Linked DNA regions of Homo sapiens. The protein of the gene in region 1 interacts with the protein of each later gene in a pairwise test. Each region holds a gene or a part of one and is shown in the gene's direction. Other genes may lie near its edges.

Region 1 (2,755 bases):
TGTCCCTGGGTTTGGTAACTGCTGCTTAGAACTCAGGAGAGGTGCACGGCTCTTTGTCCCATGTTGTGAACAGATGGGTAGGCAGTGGATAGGTAGTTGTTTCTTCAGCCTCCCCTTGTGTCTTTCAAGCGAGCACTGTGTGTCACGTGGGGATCGTGTTTGGGGCCCTTAGACTGTCGTCCCCAGCCAGCAGCAGCCGCCTCTGGGCAGGTGTGGGCGGTGCCGTCCCCGGCTGAAGCAGGCCTGCCTGTGGACCCATGCTCATCACGGTTGACAAAGCAGCTCTGCAGAGCTCGGGCACATCACAGTGGGAGCCACAACGGGAGCAAAGCTGCAGGCAAGGCTTCTCACTGGCTGAGGAGTGGTGTGTCTGCCCCGTGTATGAACTGTCAGCTACTCACACACTCAGTGGGTTGCAGAACTTAGTAAAATCCCACACCAGCCCTAGAGAGGAAGTGTTTGTCTCTTGCAATACAGCCACAGGTAAATCACCCTAGCTTCAGGGGTTACCATTTTCTTTAGAAAATCTGGAAGAGTGAGGAAAGGAGCAGGTAATTAACAACAACAACAACAAAAAATCTGGAAGAGTTCTGCCTTCACAGAAACCAGTGAAATGTGGCTGTGGCAGTGTTTTCTGTGGTCTGGCCAGGCCACCCCAGGGGCAGGTCCACCGGCACAGGACAGTCGGTGTCTCAAGTGTTTTCCAGGATCCCACCTAGAATGGCAGAAATTCACTTCCCCAACTTGAGAGGTCCCAGCTCACACAACTTCGCCTCAGATTCCTTCTCCCAGTGCTGCTCTCCTCAATCAGGAGGGTTCAGCATTTTACCCATCTCCTTCCCTGTAGACACACACGTCTTGTTTGGTGAAAGAAATTGCAGTTGCCAAAAATAAGCCAAGATTTTGAATAGAAGTAGAAAAATTAATGAGGCTGGCCGCCGGAAAATCATTTATGAGGTTGAGATGGGGGTGATTCTTCTTTCGGAGCTGCCTCCGTGCCTCCGCTTCCCTGGGAAAGTGGCCTGTCCTGGGTGTCCTGCACACAGACAGGCCCTCACGCCTCTTGCCACCTCCCCAGGACATAGAGATGCTCTGTCTGCCCTGGGGACTCACACACTGCTATGCCTGTTCTTTCTAGCTGGCAAACGCCCTTCTGGAAAAGGAAGTGATAAACTATGAGGACATTGAGGCTCTCATTGGCCCGCCGCCCCATGGGCCGAAGAAAATGATCGCACCGCAGAGGTGGATCGACGCCCAGAGGGAGAAACAGGACTTGGGCGAGGAGGAGACCGAAGAGACCCAGCAGCCTCCACTTGGAGGCGAAGAGCCGACTTGGCCCAAGTAGTTGGGAGGTGTTGGCTGCACGTGCGGGTGGTCCGGGAAGTGAGGGCTCACTCAGCCACCCTGAGTTGCTTTTCAGCTGAGGTTTGCACTTCCTCTCGCGGCCCTCAGTAGTCCCTGCACAGTGACTTCTGAGATCTGTTGATTGATGACCCTTTTCATGATTTTAAGTTTCTCTGCAGAAACTACTGACGGAGTCCTGTGTTTGTGAGTCGTTTCCCCTATGGGGAAGGTTATCAGTGCTTCCCGAGTGAGCATGGAACACTTCGAGTTCCCAGGGTTATAGACAGTCGTTCCCAGTGTGGCTGAGGCCACCCAGAGGCAGCAGAGCATTCAGACTCCAAACAGACCCCTGTTCATGCCGACGCTTGCACGACCGCCCCAGTTCCTGTGGCTCCCTCGGAATGCTAAGGGGATCGGACATGAAAGGACCCTGTGAGCCGATTGTCCTATCTCCAGCGGCCCTGTCATCCAGCTCACTCATCAATGGGGCCAGTCAGGCCCAGGCACTGGGCTCCGGAGGACTCACCACTGCCCCCTGCTGCCATGTGGACTGGTGCAAGTTGAGGACTTCTTGCTGGTCTAGTCACGCATGCAGTGTTGGGGATGCCTTGGTTTTTACTGCTCTGAGAATTGTTGAGATACTTTACTAATAAACTGTGTAGTTGGAAAATCTACATTTGCATTGTCTGGCCAGCTCTAATGCAGAGGAGCTGGTGGGCTTGCCCTGGATCACAGGGTCTTGTGGTTTCAGTTTATAATTTGAGTAATGCAGGGACTAAGTGAAAAACTCCTTCTGTAGGAATCTGGGGCCTGGACCCCGTAGGGATAGAAGACGACCCAGGACACCCTGGCCCTGAGTTCCGGGGCATGCGGCTCCCACTCCGGCCCCCTTGCTTCTGCCCTCCCTGTGGTGCAGTGACGTGAGTGGATTGTCCTCTTGTTGCTGCAACACTGAAACGCTGGCGGAGCAGTAAGGAGGCAGCCACAGGTGCAGTCACACACCCGAGGGTGGCATCTCTGAGAGATGCCTTGACCTTTGCCCCAGTTCTCCAAATCCAAAGACCAGCACATCGATGGGAGGGTTTTAGCTGGTGTAGCCAAGGGTAGTGTCCTCGGTAATTGTTTTTTTTTTGCTGTTGTGTTGGTTTTTGGCAGAGTCTTGCTCTGTCGCCCAGGCTAGAGTGCAGTGGCGCCATCTCGGCTCACTGCAGCCTCGATCTTCTGGGCTCAAGCAATCCTCCTGACTCAGCCTCCCAAGTAGCTGGGACCGCAGGCACGCACCATTATGCCCGACTAATTTTTGTACTTTTTGTAGAGACAGGGCTAGACTCGAATTTCTGAGTTCAAGTGATCCTCCTGCCTTGGCCTCCCAATGTGTTGGGATTACAGGTGTGAGCCACTGTGCCAAGCC
Region 2 (3,823 bases), on another chromosome or scaffold:
GTGCAATGGCGCGATCTTGGCTCACAGCAACCTCCGCCTCCCGGGTTCAAGCCATTCGCCTGCCTCAGCCTCCGGAGTAGATGGGATTATAGGCATGCACCACCACACCCGGTTAATTTTGTATTTTTAGTAGAGACGGATTTCTCCATGTTGGTCAGGCTGGTCTCGAACTCCGGACCTCAGGTGATTCGCCTGCCTCGGCCTCCCAAAGTGCTGGGATTACAGGCGTAAGCCACCGTGCCCAGCACTTTTTTTTTTTTTAAGACAAGGTCTTGCTCTGTGGCCCAGGCTGGAGTGCAGTGCCACCATCTTGGCTCACTGCAGTTCCGAATGCCAGCCCCCCAGCCCCAGGCTCAAGCAATCCTCTAACCTCAGCCTCTAAGTTGCTGGGACTAGAGGCATGTGCCACCATGCCCGGCTGATTTTTCTATTTTTAGTAGAGACAGGGTTTCTCCATGTTGCCCAGGCCAGTCTCAAACTCCTGGGCCCAAGCGATTAGCCGGCCTTGGCCTCTCAAAGTGCTGGTATTACAGGTGTGAGCCACTGCAGCCAGCCTACCCTGCACTCTTGAGCTGCAAGTACCTATCAAAAGTAAATGGGATTATCATAATGACCTAAATCTCAATCTTGACTTATCACTGCCCTCCTGGCTCAAAAGTAAACCACCTTATCCTGAATTTTATGTTTATGATTCTTCCCTCTCCTTTCCTTTCTTTTTCTTTCTTCTCCTTTCCTCTTCTTTTTCTTTCTTTCCTTCCTTCCTTCCCTCCTTCCCTCCTTCCTTCCTTCCCTCCTTCCCTCCTTCCTTCCTTCCCTCCTTCCTTCCTTTTTCCTTTCCTCCCTCCCTCTCTCCATCCTTTCATTTCTTCTTTCCCTTCTTCCTTTAGGGTTTTATAAATACTGAGTAAATGCAATGATATATTTATGAAACATTTGTTGACTATATAAAATGAAATATCACAAATACTTGCGTTCTTTTACTCCACTTAAGAAATAAAATTCTAACTTTATATTTGAAGGCTCCAATATCCTCTTCCCCGAATATTCCATCTTTCCTCCTCCAACTCCAGTGGTAACCCATATTTCATATTTTTTTAAAGAAAAACTTATTAGGTAAATTTTCAAACAATAGCAAAATGAAACCCGATGTACTCATCCACTTAGCTTCAATAATGATCAACACCTGGCTAACTTGTTTCATCATTACTCCTCCTCCCAGGGATTATTTCAAAGCAAATTTCAGACATCATATTATTTCATCTCTAAATATATCATATGTGCCTCTGATAGATAAGGATTATTTTATTAACATAACCACAATTCCATATCATAATATCATATTTTAAAAATTAACAGTAATTCCTTAATATAGTCAGTGTCCAAATATCCCATTGTCTCATAAATGCCACAATTTAAAAATATTTAGTTTGTTTGGATCAGGATCCAAGTAAGGCCCACAGATTGAAATTGGTTGGTATGTCTGTTAAGTTTCTTTCTCCCTCCTTTTTTCTTGCAATTTGTATGGTGAAGAAACTAGGCCTTATCCTGCAGTATTCACCATGATCAGGACTTTGCTGATTACATTGCTTGGTATCATTTAACAGGTTCCTCTTTCCTGTGTATTTCCTGTGAAGTGGTAGTTGGGTCTACAGGCTTGATTCGTTTTAGTATATGATTACTTCTTAGGTGATGTACAGTGACTTCTTTAAACATCAAACGCAATGGTCTTTTTCCATTTCTTCTCTTCCTTGATCTCACTGCAGCACTTGATACTGTCAAGCTTGACACTGGATACTTCTTCCTTTGTGAAATTCTCTCCCCACTCTTTCTTTCTTTTCTTTCTTTCTTTTTTTCTTTCTGTCTTTCTTTCTTTCTTTTTCTTTTTCTTCTTTTCTTTTCTCTTTCTTTCTTTCTTTCTTTTTTTTTTAGACAGAGTCTCGCTCTGTCACCCAGGCTGGAGTGCAGTAGCGTGACCTTGGCTCACTGCAACCTCCGCCCACTGAGTTCAAGCAATTCTCATGTCTCAGCCTCCTGGGATTACAGGCATGTGCCACCACTGCCGGCTAATTCTTGTCTTTTAGTAGAGACAGGGTTTCACCATGTTGGCCAGGCTGGTCTCCAACTCCTGACCTCAGATGATCCACCCGCCTCGGCCTCCCAAAGTGCTGGGATTACAGGTGTGAGCCACCACTCCTGGCCCCCACTCATTATTTCTTGGATGAGATGAAGTGGTAGGCTCAGGGACTGCCAACCAGCTGCCATTTTAAACTGGAATGCAACGCATTATTATATCAAAAAATCAATCAAAATATCTTTAAATAATGGTTGACTGTTATCCATCAGCCATAACCAGGATATTGGTGGAGTTCCCTAAAGGCCTAGCTGTTGCCACAGAACAAAATGCCATCTATGATTGTAGGTGGTAGGGAAATAGATCTGAAAATACAATTTTCTATTGTGTAGCTCTTCCCACAGTACAGCATATTGTATTAGTCAGAATAGGATAGATTCTGCCGCAGTAACAGTCCCTGAAATCTCTGCAGCTTAAGCACTAAAGTTTGCTCCTTTCTCTTGTAAAGTCCACTGTGGATCCAGCAGCTCTCCAGGACAGCTCCTTTCCAAGGATGCTGTCTGCTTTTATCTGTGACCTTTCCATCTCAACCTGTGGCTTCTAAGATTGCCATAGAAGGGTAAAGAGAAAATGCTGGAAGGTTTTTCACATCAGCTCCTTAAATGCTTCTTTTTAAAGTGGCACATATCATCTCTGCTCACAATCTATCAGTCAGAACATGGCTCTACCTAAACGCATCGGGGCACTGAAATGTGGGGCAGAGTAAGTTATTTGGTGAACGGTTCGCTCCCTTATATGGTTATTTGTCTCTAAATGTATGTTTCCCATTTTCTACCTCCTGAATGTCTACATCCAGGAAATTGGATGGTCTGTCTAAAAACAAACAAGCATTAGAACTGATCATGCAGTGTTATGGGTCCATCAGCTATTGATACATAGTGGCCAGCCCTTTGGGCTGATACCTGTTTTGGTGAGATATCCAGAAATTATACCAAGGCCCCATATTGTACTTAATAGCTTAAACAAACATGTTATCTCAGAAGTGTTGTTTGGGAGATTTTCCCCCTAAAAGTAACACCTTATACTGACATCACACCATTGCCTCTTTTTCTTCCTCCTGACATTATCTTGTGATATCTTTTACCATAGTCTATATATATATATATATTTTTTTTTTTTTTGAGACAGAGTTTCGCTCTTGTTGCCCAGGCTGGAGTGCAATGGTGCGATCTCGGCTCACTGCAATCTCTGCCTCCCAGGTTCAAGCGATTCTCCTGCCTCAGCCTCCTGAGTAGCTGGGATTACAGGCATGTGCCACCATGCCCAGCTAATTTTGTATTTTTAGTGGAGACGGGATTTCACCATGTTGATCAGGCTGGTCTTGAACTCCTGATGTCAGGTGATCCACCTGCCTCGGCCTCCCAAAGTGCTGGGATTACAAGCATGAGCCACTGCGCCTGGCCACCATAGTCTATTTCTAGGTGTTCTCCTTAGACCACCTATATCATAATCAACTGGAAAGTTTATAAAAATTACTGGTTCTGGGAACTATTAGAGATCTTCTGAAACAGAATTTCTTGGGTTAAAGGCTGCATTTTAAACAAGTTTCCTAGGTGATTTTCAGGTGTGCTAAAATTTTGGAACCACTGTTCTATAGTATATGGCATTTACTGCTTTGTAGTGTTACCTTCGTCTTTACATATGTCTCCCTATCTAGATAAGATTCCCTGGGGAGAAATTTATACCTCAGCT

What was found.
Region 2: the proteins of SPG7 (region 1) and SPATS1 interact in a two-hybrid assay, tested with the Homo sapiens proteins (one large-scale study listed by BioGRID and IntAct).

Annotation. Positions count from the first base shown.
Region 1 is NC_000016.10:89,555,749-89,558,503, forward strand, and holds the end of SPG7 (mitochondrial inner membrane m-AAA protease component paraplegin isoform 1 precursor), read left to right. Parts: intron 1-129; coding exon of another isoform or gene 130-337; intron 338-1,138; coding exon 1,139-1,345; 3' UTR 1,346-2,018; downstream 2,019-2,755. UniProt on the Homo sapiens protein: Catalytic component of the m-AAA protease, a protease that plays a key role in proteostasis of inner mitochondrial membrane proteins, and which is essential for axonal and neuron development.
Region 2 is NC_000006.12:44,362,890-44,366,712, forward strand, and holds part of SPATS1 (spermatogenesis-associated serine-rich protein 1), read left to right. Parts: intron 1-3,823.